Linked DNA regions of Homo sapiens: all the other regions are linked to region 4. The links come from fine-mapping of genetic effects on gene expression. A gene starts in region 4. Each other region holds a variant in brackets. All regions are shown on one strand. Distances are from middle to middle.

Region 1 (5,000 bases), 110 kb before region 4:
AGTCCCAGCTACTCAGGAGGCTGAGGCAGGAGAATGGCATGAACCCAGGAGGCAGAGCTTGCAGTGAGCCGAGATCGTGCCACTGCACTCCAGCCTGGGCAACAGAGTGAGACTCCGTCTCAAAAAAAAAAAAAAAAAAAAAAAAAGATAGCGAGGGAAAGGCATCGCTGTCAGAAGGAAATGGCATGTGTAACAAGCTTAGGGGTAGGGGTATGTGAAACGCACATGGTGTACATGAGGAAAGGCCAGGAGCTTTATGTCGCTGGAGCACAAAACAGTATTCATGGAATGCTGTGGAAAGTGGGGCAGACAAATCAGTGCCAGGTGAGGCTGAAAAAGTGAAGCCTGTGAAGGCATGAGAAACCATCTTAATTTTTGGATTTTTGTGCCCCTAATCTTGACCCATAAGGGCATCTGGAAAGACAGGTGAGGAGTCAGCATTTTTGTGGTTGACAGAGAAAATGGTGGAGGATTCATTCATTCATACTTATACTTTCTTGCATTGCCTATCTTTTGGTTTTATAAGAGAGAGAAAAAATTATTTTATAAGCAATTATTTATAAAACAATTCATTAGAGCAAATTTGTTTTTGAATCAGGAGCAAAATATTTTTTGTAATAAATGGACAAAAGCTTTTGCCTCTTGTCGATTTCAATCATTAAACTGTGAGGGAGAGTTTTTCAATTTAGTGGATTAACATATTTCAAGGCATTATCCTTCAACAATAAGGGAGAGGTTTCTCTGGCCTCATTAATTTTTGGTGTAAACTCATGAATTCTTATTTCATTCAATAGGCTATAATCTATTACGGACATTAATTATTCTGACCCTCAAACTGAACCAGATTTGACAGGGGCAGCCCCTTCAAGCTGGCTTTGTCCTTCTGACTCTTCACCATTTTGTGAGCCCTTCTTTACTTTTAGGCACAATATATTCTAGGCTTATCTTGGACTTTCCCTGTCACGGCCTTGGGATCAGCCAGTTCTCTAGAGAATGGAACTGGTTTTATATATTTGCAATTTTCTAAATTGTGTGTCTGAGACACAAGTTTTTTATAATTTTTATTTACCAGGTTTTAAAAAATGCCATTTGATATTCAGTTTAATGCCAATTACCTTCTGGCAACATTTGTTTCCCACAACCTAATATATCCCATGAGCCCCTGACCTTGGGGTCAAAATTTCTCCCAGCTACACCAGGTTTTAAGAACTAATGAGGCTGGCAAGGGATGAGAGTATTTACAATTTTTTTTAAAGTAGTTTTAAAAACACATGTAAAATAAAAAGCACCTCAGTATTTTTTGTATCTATGTAAATATTTTATTCTGCTTCCAGATAGAACATTGAAGTTTACATGTTATTTTAAAGACAATAAACAGCTAAGCTACTGACATAAAATATGCAATAAATTTATGAGATATAAGGTACAGATGAGAAAAATCTGAAATAAGTTTTTAACTTCATTTAGCCTATTAGGAACATGAAGATGTCTGGAATTGATGCTGGCCTTGGTCTCAAGTACTTTTTCCCATATGTATTTGTTTTATCCTTCCAGAAAGCATATCATATTAGAGTGTCTAAGAAATCAGTGAATCACTAAGTTTTCCATCTTACCGAAGTACAAAACATTATTTCAAATCTAGGCCTTCTGACAGAATCCAATATCTATTTTTATACTTACTTTTCTTTCTACTAAGTTCTTTAATAAAATTATGAATCAGAAAGCAAGTACAAGACATGCTTATTTCACACAGAATATCAATGAAGACTTAAGAAGATAAATAGCAAGTACTTCTAAAAAATCACAAATTTTGACATTTGGAACAATATAATTGCCATACTATTATATCTTTTATTAAAAAAGACCTTTTCCAGCTTGTTTCCAGACTTCTTTTACTCCTTTAATGCTTTCTTTCTTCACACACTTCCAGTATTCTTGTATACTCTGATGTTGTGGTACCTGTTAACCGAAAGTAAAAATCAAGGGGTCATTGTCTTCAAGGTTAAACATGATTTCATATATACTTTACGTTACTGTTTATTTCCTTCCCACACTCCTCCAAAAATAGTTGAGGGTGAATTATGTTGTAAAAGATGATCACAACAGAACTGAAAATGGGGGTAAAAGACAAAAAGTGAATGTAACTATGCTTAAGGTTACTAGGGAGTGGAACCAGACTGAGCACACATTAATGGAGTTTCTTCTCTAAGAGGGTAATGAAGACTTTGGGCCATCTCTTCTTTCACATACTGGCTTTAAAATTTAATTACTTTAT[A/C]ATGTTTTCCTTTTATAATGTTTTATAATCTTTCCCTTTTTTTCTGGTGAACTTTGTTTAGCTATGTAGAATACAATTATAAGCCTAAAGCTTTGATTTAACATTGGCTAAAATTAAAAAAAAAAAAGGCCACAAAGTATTTGATGAAAAGCTTCAAGAAATAATCTAATTCATGGACGTGTTTTGTTAGCTAAAAATACATGTGGATTACTACTACTCTCAACAAAATGAAAAGGTAAAGGTTAGGAAATATTTGGATCCGGGGGACCACAGGAGCATAGCACTGATGAAAATTAGCCAAGTGGAAGCAAAATTCTACTCCAGATTATATATGTTCTTTTTCTTATGACTGATTTACAGCTTTTCTTTTTAATGTCTTCTGAGAAAGGGCAAGGAGACTCCCAGGTACACTCAATTGTGAACTGAAAAGACTGGCTTAATTTCCCGGAATATATTTATGGGTGTTGGATAACTGCAAAGTTTATAAAATATTAATATGTTTGCTAATGAAAATAATATTTATTTTTCCCTAAGTTATGTTTGTTGCAGGAAATGGAATTGCTTTTCTAAGTTGTAAATAGCTTTATTTTCATGAATAGTACCATATTCTCTCTCTCTCTCCTTCCTTTTTTCTTGCCTACCTACCAACCATGTAGATTCTCTTTGGACCCTAGTCTTCCCCTGGCAGACTTCTTTTCTGAGAGTGCTTCTAGCACATTCTAATCTGAACAAAAATCTGAATTTGATTTGTCCCACAAGTATAGACTCATATGTGACTTTGAGTGAATAATGCTAATAGTGAAATTTACTTCATAATCTCAGCCACTATACTAAGTATTTTACATCAAATTCTAACAATAATGCTTTCTGGTAGATTAGTTTCCTCATGGTATGGGTCAAGAATCTGAGACTAAAAAAAATTAAGTGGCTTTGCAAGATTAAGCAGTTAATAAACAGTAGAGGTGGGATTTGAATTTACATATATCTAATTACATGTAGTTAGTCAAATCCTAGGCTATGATTTTTTTTCCCTTTTTTTGTAGAAACAGAGTCTCATGATGTTATCCACGCTGGTCTCAAACTCCTGGCCTCAAGTGATCCACCCGGCTCGGCCTCCCACAATGTGCTGGGATTACAGATGTGAGCCACCATGTCCAGCTAGGCTACATTTCTGAATAGTAATTTCTTTTTTAAAAAATTATTTTTTTTTGGAGACAAGGGCTTGCTCTGTTGCACAGTCTAGAGTGCAGTGGTGCGATCGTAGCTCACAGTCACTTTAAATAGTGATTTCTTATTAGATTCACATTATTTTTTAAAAAGCAAAGATGTTTAATCTCATATATAAAATATATTTCTGTATTTCAATTACAGCTTATAGTCTTTTTATAAGTGATGAAAACTCCATTTAAAGACTGTACAATTGCCCAAATTCTAGGTTTAATATCAGTTAATGACAATGTAAACATGTATTATATAAAAAAAATCTGTTACCCATAAACCTCGATGCATTCTGTTTTTTAACACCCCAAGAAACTCTTCATGACTAAGACATTCATCACCATCCAAATCAAAGATCTTAAAGACAGTGTCCAAAATATTGTTTGAGAGTTCTTGTCCTGTTGCTACTTTCACAGCTCTCTTAAACTCCGCTAAAAAACAAACATAAAACAACTTATCAACTATGTGAAATAGTCTAAGTGAAATTAATCTAAATTTTCATTATTTGAGAAGTAAAAGCAAATCCAAATTTTTATTATTTGGGAAGTAAAACAAAAACAAAAATACCCATGAAGAAAATATTCAAACCATAAGCCGACGAATGTCATGAGAGTCACTGCAAGACAAATGAGCTATTGTAATTTAATCAATGCTCTAAACATATATTTGAGATGAATCTTGCTCGTCGCCCAGGCTGGAGTGCAATGGCACGATCTTGACTCACTACAACCTCCGTCTCCCGGGTTCAAGCGATTCTCTTGCCTCGGCCTCCTGAATAGCTGGGATTACAGGCGCCTGCCACCACGCCCAGCTAGTTTTTGTATTTTTAGTAGAGATGGGGTTTCACCATGTTGGCCAGGCTGGTCTTGAACTCCTGACTTTGTGATCCGCCCACCTTGGACTCCCAAAGTGCTGGGATTACAGGCATGAGCCACCATGCCCGGCCTTCTTCCTTCTTTTTAGGAGAATGAGAAAATAAAAGTATAGAAAGTAACCATTAAACTGGAGTACTGGTATTCTAAATCTAGAATAACCACACTGAATTAAAAGGTCAATCAACTATTTTTACTTATAATTTGTTCCTTGATTGGTAGCATTTAGTTGAAGAATATAGTAAAACTGTTTATAGATGATAAAAATTAAATGGTTTTTCATATAACTTACCTAGTCTGACAGGACGATGAGCTAAACTGAACATCTGCATGGCAATAGCAAAGTCTTCCAAGTGGGTTGTAAAATGGCAAAATGACTTGAATTCATCCAAACTAATGCTCTAATAAAGTAAGAGTTTTTATTACAATTTTGTAAGTACATTAAATAATCTTATAAATGTTAACTATGAACTTTCTTTTCTACCGTAGAGACTAGTATCATTCTAAGAGGAAGAGACAACAGAGCTTTCTCTGTCCCTTTCTCTCTGTGTGCACACAGAAATGGCCACACAAAGGGCACAGTGAGAAGGTGCTGTGTGCAGGCTGGGCAAGAGGCCTCACCAGAAACTGGCCCT
Region 2 (5,484 bases), 120 kb before region 4:
AAAACAAGATGGCCATAGTGGTTGAGCAAGAGTGGGAAGGAGAGAAGGTGAGGTTGGGAGTGTCAGGGGCAGGGGCAGGAAGAACCTTGAGACCTTGGTGAAGGTTTGTATTTTATTGTTATGGGAGCCTTTGAACATAACTTAAAGAAGTTATTTACTTTTTTGGTGGTTGTCCTTGAGTTTGCAGTATATGTTTATAACTAACCCATGTCTTCTTTCTTTCCTTCTTTTTTTTGGGGGAGGTGGGGTGGGATGGGGGGGGACAGGGTCTCTGCCACCCAGGCTAGAGTGCAGTAGTGCAATCACAGCTCACTGCAGCCTCAAACTCCTGGGCTCCAGCGATCCTCCTGCCTCAGCCTCTTGAGTAACTAGGGCTGTAGGTATGCATCGCTATGCCCGGCTAATTTATTTTATTTTTAATTTTTTGTAGAGATGGGGGTCCATGTCCTCTTTGAAATAACACTATACTACTTCAAGGGTATGCAGGTACTTTATACAAGAGCATTTTCTCTTTTCTTTCTTTCTCTTTCTGTCTCTCTGTCTCTCTCTTTCTCTTTCTTTGTCTTCTTTCTTTCTCTTTCTGTCTGTCTCTTTCTCTTTGTCTTCTTTCTTTCTCTTTCTTTGTCTTTCTCTTTCTTTTCTTTTCTTTCTTTTCTTTCTTTTTTTTTTGACAGAGACTCACTCTGTCACCCAGGCTGGAGTGCAGTAGTGCAATCTCAGCTCACTGCAACCTCCACCTCCCGGGTTCAAGTGATTTTCCTGCCTCAGCCTCCTGAGTAGCTGGGATTACAGGCATAACCCATCACGCCTGGCTAATTTTTGTATTTTTAGTAGAGACGGGGTGTTTCCCCATGTTGGTCAGGCTGGTCTTGAACTCTTGACCTCAAGTGATCCTCCCGCTTTGGCCTCCCAAAGTGCTGGGATTACAGGCATGAGCCACCATGTCAGGGCCCTCTGGAGGTTTTTTTTTTTTTTTTTTTTTTTTTTTGAGACAGAGTGTTGCTCTGGTTGCGCAGGCTGGAGTGCAATGGCATGATCTCAACCAACTAACTGCAACCTCCACCTCCCAGGTTCAAGCTATTCTCCTGCCTCAGCCTCCCATGTAGCTGGAATTATAGGCATGTGCCACCATGCTCGGCTAATTTTGTACTTTTAGTAGAGACGGGGTTTCTCCATGTTGGTCAGGCTGGTCTCGAACTCCCCACCTCAGGTGATCCATCCACCTTGGCCTCCCAAAGTTCTGGGATTACAGGCGTGAGCCACCACACCCAGCCTGGAGTTTTTAACTCTCAAACTTGTCCGTAAGGAGCCTCTGTCAATACATTAAATCACAGTTTAGGTTTTCTTTATTTCCTTCCATCTTTGAATTTCATTTGTTCTTTTTCTGGTTCCTTAAGGTGTAAAGTTGTTGATTTGAGATTATTGTTCTTTTTAAATGTAAACATTTATAGCTATTAATTTCTGTCTTAAGGCTGGACGCGATGGCTCATGCCTGTAATCCCAGCACTTGAGGCCAAGGTGGGCGGATCACCTGAGGTCAGGAGTTTGAGACCAGCCTGGCCAACATGGTGAAACCCTATCTCTACTAATAATACAAAAATTAGCCAGGATGGTGGCAGGCGCCTGTAATCCCAGCTACTTAGGAGGCTGAGGCAGGAGAATTGCTTGAACCCGGGAGGCAGAGGTTGCAGTGAGCCGATATCGTGCCATTACACTCCAGCCTGGGGGACAAGAGCAAGACTTCATCCCCCCCAAAAAAAAAAATTTCCCTCTTTAGCACTGCTTTCACTGCATCTCATAGTTTTGCTGTTGTGTTTTCATTTTTATTTGTCTCAACGTATGTTCTCATTTCCCTTTTCTTTGAGGCATTGGTTGTTTGAGTGGGTTGTTAATTTCCACATATTTGTGGCCCAGTGGCTTTTATATATACTTATGAAGTTACCTTTAGTAGTATTTTTTTTTCTTCTGTCTTTGAATTACTGTCTATTGTCTTTTCATTTCAGTCTGAAGCACTCCGTTTAGCATTTCTTGTAGGGCAGTACTGGTAATAAGACTCAGTCTTTTAAATCTGGATATATCTTAATTTCTCCTTCATTCTTGAATGATAGTTTTGCTGTATATAGAGTTCTCGGTTGACAGTCTTTTTCTTTCAAGACTTTAAATATGTCATCCAGTGCCTTTTGGCCTCCATGGTTTCTAGTGGAAGATAAACTGTCATTCTTAATGAAGGTCTCTTGTACATGCATGAGTCACTTTTTTTTTTTTTTTTTTTTTTCCACGGAGTCTTGCTCTGTCGCCCAGGCTGGACTGCAGTGGTGTGATCTTGGCTCACTGCAAGCTCTGCCTCCAGGTTCTGGCCATTCTCCTGCCTCAGCCTCCTGAGTAGCTGGGACTACAGGTGACCGCCACCACGCCCAGCTAATTTTTTGTATTTTCAGTAGAGATGGGGTTTCACCGTGTTAGCCAGGATGGTCTCAATCTCCTGACCTCATGATCCGCCCACCTCAGCCTCCCAAAGTGCTGGGATTACAGGCATGAGCCACCGCACCTGGCCGCATGAGTCACTTCTACCTGATGCTTTCAAAATTATCTTTTTGTCTATGGGAGTTGATAATTTGACTATATGTCTCAGTGTGTATCTCTTCAAAGTTTTCCTGCTTGGAGTTCATTGAGCTTCTTAGATGTATATATTCATGTTTTTAATCAGATTTGGGAAGTTGTCAGCTATTATTTCTTCAAAT[T/A]TTTTGCTGCTCCTTTCTCTATGTCTTCTCCTTCTGGGATTCCTATAATGTGTATTTGGTATGCTTGATGAGGTCCCATAGGTTCCTCAGGCTGTCTTCATTTTTCTTCACTCTTTCTTTCTTTTCCCTAGACTGGGTAATTTTCAATGTCTTATCTTCAATTTTGCCAGTCCTCTCTTTTCCTTGTTCAAACTTGCTGTTGAATCCCTCTATTGCATTTTTCATTTTAGTTATTGCAGATTTTGTTTGGCTCCTTTTTATAATTTCTATTTATACTTTCATTTTGTTCAGACATTGTTTTCTTGATTTCTATTAGTGTTTATTCATGGTTTCCTTTAGAAAACATATTGAACATATTTAAAACAATTGATTTAACATCTTTGACTAATAATTCCAAAGTCTGGTCTTCTTTAGGTATGGTTTCTGTGAAATTCTTTATATCCTGTGAATGGATCATACTTTCCTGTTGCTTTACATGTTTTATAATTTTTTGTTGAGAACTGGTTATTCTGAGCATTATGTTGTAGTAACTCTGGAATCTAATTCTACTCCTTAGGGATTGCTTGTTTTTGCTTGTTGTGGGCTGGACCCATTCCTATTTGTGCCTTTTCCAAACAATGTATCTTCCTTGTTGTGTGTGGCTACTGAGGTTTCTTTTCTGTTATCTCTACAGTTAGCCAGTAACCTGACAAAAATGTCCTTAAATGTCTGACTTTCAAGAAGGAGGGAAGATATCCTGTCTCTTTAAATCTCTTGTGGCTGGGAAGCTGCTTCAGCTTGTGAAGTGGGCATTAAAAAATGGTTGGCCTCCAGCCTGGCCCCTCATCACTTTATCAAAATCAGCAAGCAGCTAGCAGAACACATGACCCCCACTCCTGGAGGATAAGGTCTTTTGTGCTCACACTGGTTCCAGGAAGCTGCCCCAGGAATGTGGGCTGCTTCCCTGACAGTTTCCTGATGCTGGGTGGCAGGCTTTTTGCTGTTGCTGCTACATCACAAAAGGCTGAAGTTCACCAAAATTTACTAGCAACTTCATCAAACTCTCCCTCAAATGTCAGAAATGTTCCAAAATAAGACAATTCCTGCCAGTTCAATAGTTGTTTAGGTGAAGGGACAGATTCCTGGAGCCTCCTGCTCTGCTATCTTCCCTGACATCATTCCCTACATTATGCCTTTTTTTTGAGACAGAGTTTCACTTTGTTGCTCAGGCTGGAGTGCAATCTTGGCTCACTGCAACCTCTGCCTCCTGATTTCAAGCGATTCTCCTGCCTTGGCCTCCTGAGTCACTGGAATTACAGGTGCCTGCCATCACACCTGGCTAATCTCATGTTTTTAGTAGAGGCGGGGTTTCACCATGTTAGCCAGGCTGGTCTTGAATTCCTGACTTCAAGTGATCCTCCCGCCTCGGCCTCCCAAAGTGCTCGGATTACAGGCATGAGCCACCATGCCTGGCCTCTACATTATGCTTTGATTTTTATGATTTAACACCTGGAGGGTAACCTTGTTTCCAAACTTTGGGAGGACATTTCAATTTGTTTCCATTCCCAGAACCTGTTCTGCTTTCTAACCGTATCAGAACCCCTGGCCAGTCTCTCTTGATATTTGCTATCTGTGTCCAAAGCAGAGGCCAAACCAGAGCTGTCTTAAAGCTCCCTTAAGCCATCTACTCTCTCCTGTCCAGTCCTGTAACAGAAAAGCTGGTATGTGAGAACAGCTAAAGCACATATGGGGATTTTTTTTTTTTTTTTTTTTTTTGAGACAGAATCTCCCTCTGTCACTCAGGCTGGAATGTAGTGGCACAATCTCGGCCCACTGTAACCTCTGCCTCCCAGGTTCAAGTGATTCTCCTGTCTCAGCCTTCCGAGTAACTTGGACTACAGGTGCGTGCCAGGATGCCTCGCTAAATTTTTGTATTTTTAGTAGAGTTGGGGTTTTGCCATATTGGCCAGGCTGGTCTTGAACTCCTGACCTCAGGTGATCCGCCTGCCTCAGCCTCCCAAAGTGCTGGGATTAGCGGTGGGCATGAGCCACCGTGCCTGGCCCAGGGTTATTTCTTGTTCCACTTTCCTTTTTGTTAACTAATTCATAGGTCAAACATTTTTTTGAGCGAGTATGTGCTAGCTCTTTGATGGATGCTGGGAGATAGCGTTAAAGGAGTCATGTTGTTGCTATCAATGAGCTCATAGCCAAGGGGAAGAGGCAAATACATAAAAGAATTCCAGTATACTTTAATGAGGCTTGAAAGATATGTGGACAGAAACGTGTGAGGGAACTAACAGCATGTATCCCTAAATGAATTTGAGGGAAAAGCAGGGAGAAAAATGGAAAACTTTGCAGATGAAATGGCACTGGAAGTTAGGCAGGTGGGAGCATCTTCAACAGAAGCACTAGTAAGTGCAAACACTTGGAGAGTGAGAACATGGCCAAGCGGGGTGATGAGAAGTAATTCAGTATTGTTGTAGTGTAAAGTGTGTGGTGGCAAGTGTTAGGATATGAGAAAGATAGATGGGGCAAGATCATGTAGAGTTGAATTTTATTTTTTAAGCGATTTTAGTGTCGTAAGATTATCAGAAGCGTAGTGACATGATCAGATTTATGTTTCAGAAAATAAGTCTGTTGTGAAGGAGGATCTGAAATAAGAAGTTAACAGCATTAATATTTAAAAGCTGCTAAAGGTTTACTCCAGTGCATTTCATACATCATCTCAATCCTTACAAAAAGGCTATGACATCACAACTAAAAT
Region 3 (5,520 bases), 170 kb before region 4:
AGGTGGATCACGAGGTCAGGAGTTCAAGACCAGCCTGGCCAAGATGGTGAAACCCCATCTCTACTAAAAATACAAAAAATTAGCTGGGCATGGTGGCGTGCGCCTGTAGTCCCAGCTACTCAGGAGGATGAGGCAGGAGAATCGCCTGAACCTGGGAGGCGGTTGCAGTGAGGCAAGATCACACCACTGCACTCCAGCCTGGGTGAAAGAGTGACACTCTGCCTCAAAAACAAAACAAAATAAAACAAAACAAAAGAACAAAACAACAACAAAAAAACCCAACAACAACAAAAATTATTAGGCACACTAAATGTTTATACATTTTTTTATGTAAGAAATGTCATTTTTCAATCTTGTCAATGACACTAACCTCATTTAGAGACAACATTAATTTATGGTTCTTTGTGAACATGAGGGCTGGCTATGTCCTATTCTTCACTTCATTGCCCCCTTTTCTTGCCTGTCTCCCACTTATTGAGCCTGAAAATATCAGATACTCACTTTATCAGTATACTTGTATCTACTATGGCTATGGGATCCAGTTCTTGCAAATGGATACATCTTGAGGGAGGGAAAAACTGTCACTGGGAAAAAATTTTTTTGCCCTCCTTAACAAGTGAGAAGCACGTGAGAAAGAAGCTCTATTATTTCCTTTATCCTGTTTTTGCTTTGAATTCTTATAATGTGAGGATGTGCTATCTGAATGTACAACTGTCAACTTTCAACCTTGATGGGCCAGTTATATGCTGGATATAGAATTCTGGGTTGACAGTTCTTTTCATTCAGTACTTTAAATATGTACTACTTCCTTCTAAATTCCACGGTTTCTGATGACAAATCTGCTGTTATTCTGTTTTTCCCCTATAGGTAAAGTGTCCTCACTGTTTTCAAGATTTTATATTTAGTGGTCAGAAATTTGGTTATAATGTATGTTGGAGTGGATTTCTTTGGGATTTTCCTGTTCAGAGTTTGCTGAACTTCTTAAGTTCTTCTTGAATATGTCCTTCGCCAAGTTTGAAAATTTTAAGCTATCATTTCTTTGAATACCTTTTCAACCATATCGTCTTTCTTCTCCCCTGGGACTCTGATGGTACAAATATTAGAACTTTTAAAAATAGTCCCACAAGTCCCTGATGATTTGTTCATTTTTATTTTTCAGTATATTTTCTCTCTTTTGTTCAGATTGGGTAATTTCTAATGTTTTATCTTCAAGTTCATTCACTTCACTTTTTTTCTCTGCCCTCTCCATTCTGCTGTTCAGTTGACTTTTTAAAATTTTGGCTATTGTATTTTCAGTTTAAAAATCTCCATCTGGTTCTTTACATCTTCTATTTCTTTGTTGAGAATTCTATTTTTTCATAATTCAATAGCAAATTGAATCACTTTAAAGATAGCTGCATTAAAGTCCTTGTCAAGTAATTCCAACATCTGTGTCTTTTTGGTTTTAGTATCTATTCTCTTTTCTCATTTAGTTTTCCTGGTTCTTGGTAGGATGGATGGTTTTCAATTGTATCCTGAAATGTTTTAGTATTATGCTGAGACTCTAGATCTTATTTAAATTTGTTTTTGCAGGCCTCGTCTGACTCCGTGCAGTGAGAGATGTGGGAGCACCACCTTGTTGCCATCAGGTGGGAGTCCAAGTCCCAGCTCCCTGCTAGGCTTCTGCACACATATCTTGGCTGGGAAGGGTAGAGGTGCCTCCTTAGTGCTTCCCAGATAGCCTCCATTGACACCATGAGAGGGAACTTGTTACTGTTTGGGGTGGGGGGATGGAAGGGACACATCATTACTGCCCAGTGGGAATGAAAATCTAGGCTCCTGACTAGGGCTTCACCTTTTCTGATACTATCCCAGCAGGAATACTGGGGAAGAGACACAGGAGGGGGGTCTTGTTACAGCTGGGCAAGCAGGAGAGGTCTTAAGCTCAATACTCAGTCTTTGCTGGTGAGAGTGGGGGATGGAGCACAGTTTGTCTATTGTTTTTGGCTAGAGTAGGGCAGTTATTGTCTACAAGTTTTCTGTCTTACTAGGTTGTCCCTTTCCTGGCTTGACTAATAAAACTGGTCTTTTCTAGGGTTTGTTTTGGTCTGTATTCATTGGTGTTTCCAGGTTGACAGCTTCTCTAGCACATATATGAAGAAAAAAAAAATCTAGGGAACACACCACCATGTTATTCCTCAGGTCGCAAGGTCCCTAGCTGATCTGGCTTCTTCTTGATACCTTTCAGAGTCTCCTCAGGTTTGTTTTCTGCACACTTTCCATGGATTTTAGCTGTACTTACTAAGAAAAGGAAGAAGTCTCTATTTCATCTTGTCTCAGAACTGGAAGTCCCTGCTTGTCCTTTTACTGCCGAATAGCATTCTGTTATATGGAGGTATGACAACTTTATCCATTAATCAGTTCATAGGCATTTGAGTGATTTCACCTTTTTGTCTATTATGATTACTCGTGTATTCACCAAGCCTTTGGGTGGACATAATATTTTTGTATTAGTCCATTTTCACGCTGGTGATAAAGACATACCCAAGACTAGGAAGAAAAAGAGGTTTAATTGGACTCACAGTTCCACATGGCTGGGGAGGCCTCAGAATTATGGCTGGAGGCAAAAAGGCACTTTTTACACAGTGGAGGCAAGAGAAAATGAGGATGCAAAAGCAGAAACCCCTGATAAAACCATCAGATCTCTCTTGAGACTCATTCACTACCACGAGAACAGTATGGGGGAAACCACCCCCATGATTCAAATTATATCCCACTGGGTCCCTCCCACAACACAGGGGAAATTACAGGAGTACAACTGAAGATGAGATATGGATGGGGACACAGCCAAACAATATCAATTTTCATTACTTAATATCTAAAAATGGGATTGCTGGGTCTAATGTTAAATATGT[G/A]CTTAACTTTACCAGTAACAGCCAAACTGTTTTCAAAGTGGCTGTATTTGGCACAAAGTGTTTGGCACTTCCACTTACAATGGATCAGAGTTATAGTTGCTCCACATCCTCACCAATACTTAGAATTGACAGTTTTTAAAATTTAGCTGTTCTAAAAAATATGCAGTGGTATCTTCATTTCACTTTTGTGTTTTTCTAATAACTACAGCATCTTTTCATGTGTTTAACAATCACTATCCCTTATTTGTGAAGTTATATGTTCAATGGTGCCCCTCTTTTAACTGTATTGCTTATTGAGTCATGAGTTCTTCATATATTCTGGATACAAATCTTGATATGTGTGTGCCAATATTTTCTCCTAGGCCATAACTTGCCTCTTTATATTTTTAACAGTGTCTTTTGAAGAGCACAAACTCTTAATTTTGATGAAGTCTTAATTTAATTTATCAATTTTTTTCTTTTATCATTCATGCCTGGGAAATCTTTGCCAACCTATGAAAGTCACAGTTTCTCATATGTTTTCTTCTGGAAGTTTTATAGGTTTTATATTTAGGTCTGTAATATATTTCATTTTCATTTTATATCATTTCATATTTTTTATTATTTTTGAGACAGAGTCTTGCTCTCATTTTATTTCATATTTTATTTTATTATTTTTCAGACAGAATCTCGCTCTGTCGCCCAGGCTGGAGTGCAGTGGTGCGATTTCAGCTCACTAAAACCTCCGCTTCCTGGTTCAAGCCATTTTCCTGCCTCAGCCTCCCAAGTAGCTGGGACTAAAGGCATGCACCACAGTGTCCCACTAATTTTTTTTTTTTTTTTGAGACAGAGTCTCGCTCTGTAGCCCAGGCTGGTGTGCAGTGGCGTGATCTCGGCTCACTACAAGCTCTGCCTCCTGGGTTCACACCATTCTCCTGCCTCAGCCTCCTGAGTAGCTGGGACTGCAGGCGCCCACCACCATGCCTGACTAATTTTTTTTGTGTTTTTTAGTAGAGATGGGGTTTCACCATGTTAGCCAAGGTGGTCTGGATCTCCTGACCTCGTGATCCACCTGCCTCGGCCTCCCAAAGTGCTGGGATTACAGGCATGAGACATCTCTCCTGGACAACTTTTTTGTATTTTTAATAAAGATAGGGTTTCACCATGTTGGCCAGGCTTGTCTTGAACTCCTGACCTCAACTGATCCGCCTACCATGGCCTCCCAAAGTGCTGGGATTACAGGTGTGACCCACCATGCCCCCCCATGTAATCCATTTTAAAAAGTTGATACTTTGTATATGGTACAGGTAAAGGTTGAGGTTAATTTTTTTACATATGAATGGTGAATAGTTCTTACAGTGTTAGTTGAAATAACTATTTGTTCTTCATTAAATTAACCTGGAATTTTCTTATGGGAATCAACTGACTATACGTGTAAGGGTTTATTTCTGAACTCTATTTTGTTCCACTGGTCTATATGTCCATTCTTACTCAGATACTACAGTCTTGATTACATATAGCTTTCAGTAAATCTTGAAATCAGATAGTATGGGTCCTCCAACTTATTATTTTTCAAAAGTATTTTGGCTATTTTAGGTTTGCATTTCCATATAAATACTTACTTATTTTTACCTTTTTTAGAGACAGGATTTTGCTGTATTGCCCAGGCTTGTCTCAAACTCCTGGGCTCAAGCAGTCTGTCTGTCTCAGCCTCCCAAGTAGCTAGGACTATAGGCCTCCTGAGTAGCTAGACAGCTTGCATGCCATTGTGTCTGGCCCATGTAAATTTTAAACTCATCTTATTGATTTCCTTAAAAAAATACTCAAACAAGGCCAGGCATGGTGGCTCATGCCTGTAATCCCAGCACTTTGGGAGGCTGAGGCGGGCGGATCATGAGGTCAGGAGATCGAGACCATCCTGGCTAACACAGTAAAACTCCATCTCTACTAAAAATACAAAAAATTAGCCGGGCGTGGTGGCGGGTGCCTGTAGTCCCAGCTACTCAGGAGGGTGAGGTAGGAGAATGGCGTGAACCCAGAAGGCGGAGCTTGCAGTGAGCCGAGATCACTCCACTGCACTCCAGCCTGGGTGACAGAGCAAGACTCCATCTGGTGGGGGTGGGAGGCGGGAATTCACAAACAAAAATCTGCCTGGTTTTGTTTTTTGTTTGTTTGTTCTGGGAGATCCAGTGCTGGCTGATGCCTGGATTTTGACTGGCTGAACTTACAGATCAACTTGGGGAGAAGTAATGTCTTTGAAATATTGTCTTACAGCCCATGACCATGGCGTAGCTCTCCATTTTAGATTTTCTCTATCACACAGAATCTTGCACATATTTTATTAGACTTATCCCTAAAATATTTCATGTTTTTGATGCTATTATAAACAGCATTTCTAAAAATTCCAATTTTAATTACTCATTGCTATAGAATAGTATTTAGAAATATGTTTTAGTTTTTTTATTGACCTTGTATGCTGGCTCAATTCACTTTTCGGTTCTAGTAGCTTGTTTGCAGTTTCTTTGGGATTTTCTACATAAATGACTAGTCTGGTAATCAACAGGGTTTGTTTTCCTTTCCTACGTGTGTGTGTGTGTGTGTCTGTGTGTCTGTGTGTGTGCGTGCACACCATTTTAAAAGGAAGATT
Region 4 (5,000 bases):
GCTCAACTATGCACACCTGTCCCTAAAGTAGTGGTAGTAGGCCCACTTCTTAGGGAAATGTATCAAAATCACTGAGGCGAAGGCAAAGTTTTCAACCTATAGGTCCTCTCAATCCTTCCTGTATTCAGCCACTGATGCTGAAAGGAATGTCCACCGTGGTGGCAAAAGGATGAGAACCACTGTCTCGGTCCAATAGCAGATCAGGCAAATGCTATGCCAACAGACCTTATAAAACGATTGATAATAAAATGGTTTCTGTATTACTTTAGCTAAGATTAAACTTACAAAGCTGCAGGGAAGGAGAGCTGAGAGTTGGGAAGAGAATCCAAAATAACTACACTAGTGTGAAGCTTTTAGAATCAAGTCAGGGATTTCAAAGGAGAAAGATTAGAAGTGGGCCAGAAAAAAAAAAAACAATTAGATGGATAAGTGAAATCAAGAGTCTACAAATTGCAGCTGGCGGGTGAGCGGTATTTAAGTCTTGTTCTAGGGATAGTGAGTGAATCACTTTAGTGGGAAGGTGCCTGAGTAGTGTCAGGTCAGAGTGTGACTATAAAAGGCTCTGAAAGACAAAGTTTTAAAATGTGCATTTTGGCCGGGCGCTGTGGCTCACGCCAGTAATCCCAGCACTCTGGGAGGCCAAGGCAGGCGGATCACGAGGTCAGGAGATCGAGACCATCCTGGCCAACATGGTGAAACCCCGGCTCTACTAACAATACAAAAAAAAATTAGCTGGACGTGGTGGCGTATGCCTGTAATCCTAGCTACTTGGGAGGCTGAGGTAGGAGAATTACTTGAACCGGGGAGTTAAGAGGTTGTAGTGAGCCGGGATCACGCCACTGCACTCCAGCCTGGGTGACAGAGACTCCATCTCAACAACAAAAAAAAAGTGCATTTTACTCTTGGCAAAATGAGACACTGAAGAAGGGTTTCTGAAGAAGGGTACACTGTGTGGTTAAAGTGATACTCCGGAGAAGATTAACCTAAGGGTCTTAAAAACAGGATGAATCGGCCGGGCGCAGTGGCTCACGCCTGTAATTCCAGCACTTAGGGAGGCCAAGGCGGGCGGATCACGAGGTCAGGAGATCGAGACCATCCTGGCTAATACGGTGAAACCCCGTCTCTACTAAAAACACAAAAAATTAGCCGGGCGCGATGGCGGGCGCCTGTAGTCCCAGCTACTCGGGAGGCTGAGGCAGGAGAATGGCGTGAACCCGGGAGGCGGAGCTTGCAGTAAGCCGAGATAGCGCCACTGCAGTCCGGCCTGGGCGACAGAGCGAGACTCCTCTCAAAAAAAACAAAAACAAAAACAAAAAACAAACAAAAAAACCAGGATGAATCTAGGGGAGAGAAACTAATGATGAATACACTGAACTCCTTGGCACAAGATTCACAAAAATGCTATAAAAACACTAGATAATAGATCTTTCCATTATATATGTTTACAATATAATTATAATGTATGTTAATACAAATAAGGAATATCAGTTGCCAATACTTAATTTTAACTCACAAGGCCTTCTTTCCTCTCTTTTTTGTTGTATCTGAATGTTCCTTGAGTTTTTCGCTAGAAAGGCATAATGTAAATCTAAAAAAGAAAATAATAAACTACTACTTTCAATTTTCAAAAAAGCTCATATGTAAAAACTTACTAAGTCTACAAAAATTTTAAAGCACTACTCATTCAAATTTTCAAATGCGTTACAACATCATTTATCCTGAAATAGGGAACTTGAATCTTTTTTTTTTTTTTTTGAGACGGAGTTTCGCTCTTGTAGCTCAGGCTGGAGTGCAATGGCTCGATCTTGGCTCACTGCAACCTCCGCCTCCCGGATTCAAGCGGTTCTCCTACTTCAGCCTCCCGCCACCACACCCAGCTAATTGTTTATATTTTTTAGTAGAGACCGGGGGGGCGGGGCTGGGGTGGGGAGCGGCTTCACCATGTTGGCCAGGCTGGTCTCGAACTCCTGACCTCAGGAGATCCACCCGCCTCGGCCTCCCAAAGCCCTGGGATTAAAGGCGTGTGCCACCGCGCCCGGCGGACTCTTGTCTTTAATAGATGGAGGTTTTAGGAGCAATTTTTGCTTAGAACTTATGGTCCACTAAGATATTAAGGTTTATAATCATGCAATAATGTTCCTTAAAGTTGATAATAAAATCTGGAAATCAACTGGTTAATTTTTGTGGCTGACACATTCGTGACTTAAAAAAGCAATCGACAGAACTTCATCATGCTATACAAAGAAAAGATCGTAAAACTTAGTTGCAAAGCTTAACAAAGGTATATCCCACAGGGGTAACTGGACGCAAACCACCTGCGGATGTGAATGCCACTTCACTGACCAGAGAGGTAGCAAGAGGCGAGGCGCAGTGAGATTCTGAATTAGGAGCCTCGAATTAAGACACGCCCACACTCATCACCACTAAATTAGTGCGGCCAGTTTTGTGGGCCGTGGTGTTCAGCGTCCGCGGGGTTCTCCCAAGGGAGGCAGAATCTCCGGTCACCAGCCTCGAAGGCCCTCGGGGACTCAGGCCGGGGGCCGGTCCAGGAAGGAGCGAGTCCCACCAGTCGCAGGGCGCTCCGATCCGCAGCGGCACCTCCACCCACGGCTCCGGGAGAGCCGCCCAGAGCCAAACCACTCCCCGCCTAAGGGCGTCAGGGGAGGGAGGAGCTTGACTGGGGCTAGCAGAAGGAGTTAGTCCTGTACCTGTGCGGAGACTGTAAAACTGCCATCCCGCGCCGCAACACTGACGCGGCTGTGGTGCCAGGCCGCTCCTGCTCCTGCCAGGGCCGCGCCGGCCACTGCCGCTGCCAAGGGGCCGGGACTCCGCACAGCCTGTCGGCTGACAGCGAGCCCCCGTCGCAGTTTTCCGCCCCAGGCCGCCACCCGCGCGCAGCTACCCGCAGCCGCCGCCATCTTTGCGGAAGCGCAGCTAGGCGGCGCTTCTCTCCCGGCGCCGCCGCCTACCGCTTGGGAACTCTCGCGACATCCGACAGGCTTCCGCCCCGCCTACCGGGCCTGCGCCGTGGGTGCGGTTGCTGAGGCGACGCTCGCAGCCGCAAGAGGTGGCCTTCGGTTCCGGGGCTGCCTTCTAAGGCTGTGGGGATGGGATGACAGGAAGAGTATCAAGACAGTATAATATGACTTCCTAGTCCAAAACAAGATAGTGCCCTCGGTTGTGTGGGCAGGTTTCTCCTTTTCATTTTTTCACCTTGTAAAACTGTGAAACGTTTTTTGAAATAGTCTCTTCTGCATCTGTGTTGTTCATGTCTTCCTATGCTTATAGTCTTGACTGTTCTTTCATTTCTGCTAAAACAACTCTCAGACAAGGCATTCTGTTTATTTCAGTCCCTCACTATTTGCTTATAATGAATTTAAATTCAGTTTCAACAAAAGGTTTGATAGTAGCTCTTATCCTACCTAGAACTAAAAGTCAGAGACAGCAGCACACCAGCCCCATGTCTCTATCATCAGGGACCCAGAGGTTTTCCCCAGTGCAGATTTAGAACGATACCTCCAGTCCTGGCTGTTGCATTGGTGATAAGTGATGTAGCTGAGGCAGACTACTTGGTTTTATTTAACAGCCTCCAATCCTCCATTCTTTGGTCTTCACTTTTCCTGAGTAACTCTTTTTAATAAACTCTTTGTTCAGCCTCTGAAATGTCCCCAGCTATTAGAAGCTTTAGTTGGGCATGCAGTAACGGAGCCAACATCAAAGGGGCCAAGACTCCTAATCACATAATCACTGCTGTCTTGAAGTTTTGCACAAAACAAAACTTCAAGAAACAAAAACAAAAACCTGTCACACGAAATCTAATTTGATCATTCAGTGGAAGTTCCGTGGATCCCTTTGTTATTATCTGCCCTTAATCCTTGCTCCCTTTCTCTTAGCCCGCTTGTCTAAATTAATCTGCAGTCAGAGGTTCCTCACTTTTCCGTCAGCTTCTGGACTTACTTTTCAGTGTGCCTTCCCAGGTAGGAAGTAGAGAGATGAGCCTCACTTCACCGACTTGTGAGCCAGACCTCAAGGTTTGAATCTTAGCTCTACCAGGATGATCACTGTGGTTTGGGGCAAATTATTTAATCTCTCTGAGTCTCCATTTTCTCATTTGTAAATAACTCACGATTTGGTAGATGATCACTGCTATTTGGGGTAAGGTATTTAATCTCTTTGAGTCTCAATTTTTTCATCTGTGAACAACCCTCTTACAGTTTGGGGTGGGGAAGCTAAATGAGATATTTTATATAAAGTGACTAGCCAAATGCCTGGCACATGGTAGGCTCATGACAGATGTGCGTTTACTGTGGTCAAGGTTTGGTTTACTTCTGCCCTGTGAACACAAATGAGCTTGACTGAATGTCCATGATTCCAGATCACTAGCCCATCTTAACCTGAGATTTTCCTGCTTTTTTGTATCTAGCCTGACTTTGTCAACCTCTGGACTGTTTTTCACCTCTGCTAACTCTGGTAGCTTTGGCACATGTCCTGCTTTTCTGGACTATTGACATCTAGCTTGTTTCCTGGTGATAATAGGACTTCCAGGATATTTTGGACACCCTGGATGTCTTACCTTGTAGTTTATTCTTGATTTCCAGAAACCACAGTCTTTACGTGTATACTTCTAACTGCCTCACACAGTTCCTCTAGGTATTTAATGAAACCTGGCATCTATTACTCAGTATTGCCTTAAGCCCAAGATAAGTTTAGATTCCCATTAAAACATGTAGCATATTTAAGAACATTGTCTTTCTCCCACAATTTGACATCCTTGTGGGTGAGATGTCTTCCTTTTCCCTGTTTCTCTAGCACCTAGCACAATGCCCAGCACGTAATAGACATTCAATGAGTGAGTAAATAAGTGAATAAATAAATGGCACAAATGAAACTCAGGGGTTCATATTTCTATGCTTTGGCCATCCAAAATACAGAAGTATATTATTCCTTTGGGGTACTTTATTTTCAAAACAAAAGCTTCTTTTTATTTTGCCAAAAATCTT

Alleles and levels. Alleles are on the strand shown, and positions count from the first base shown. SD is a standard deviation of normalised expression in the study named. Not every link is listed here.
As copies of G replace A in region 3, the expression in CD4 T cells of the gene that starts at base 2,940 in region 4 goes down (moderate effect, 0.52 SD a copy in BLUEPRINT).

What was found.
Region 1: its variant is fine-mapped to the expression of MICU2 in blood mononuclear cells (TOPMed, PIP above 0.99).
Region 2: its variant is fine-mapped to the expression of MICU2 in whole blood (TOPMed, PIP 0.90).
Region 3: its variant is fine-mapped to the expression of MICU2 in CD4 T cells (BLUEPRINT, PIP 0.95).

Annotation. Positions count from the first base shown.
Region 1 is chr13:21,491,395-21,496,394 of GRCh38, forward strand. It overlaps MICU2 (mitochondrial calcium uptake 2), which reads right to left. Exons shown (of 12, transcript NM_152726.3): 10 at 4,658-4,766; 11 at 3,767-3,924; 12 at 1,297-1,959. The coding sequence ends at 1,855. Among named protein-coding and RNA genes, the nearest start is that of ZDHHC20, 35 kb to the left of the region's middle. The variant A/C (reference allele first, on the strand shown) is at 2,276.
Region 2 is chr13:21,484,349-21,489,832 of GRCh38, forward strand. No RefSeq gene overlaps it. Among named protein-coding and RNA genes, the nearest start is that of ZDHHC20, 28 kb to the left of the region's middle. The variant T/A (reference allele first, on the strand shown) is at 2,742.
Region 3 is chr13:21,428,632-21,434,151 of GRCh38, forward strand. All of the region lies in intron 1 of ZDHHC20 (zDHHC palmitoyltransferase 20), which reads right to left. Among named protein-coding and RNA genes, the nearest start is that of ZDHHC20, 28 kb to the right of the region's middle. The variant G/A (reference allele first, on the strand shown) is at 2,895.
Region 4 is chr13:21,601,231-21,606,230 of GRCh38, forward strand. MICU2 (mitochondrial calcium uptake 2) reads right to left here and starts at 2,940. Exons shown (of 12, transcript NM_152726.3): 1 at 2,709-2,940. The coding sequence starts at 2,918. RefSeq lists enhancers at 2,034-2,653, 2,654-3,272, 3,054-3,123 and a silencer at 2,674-2,883.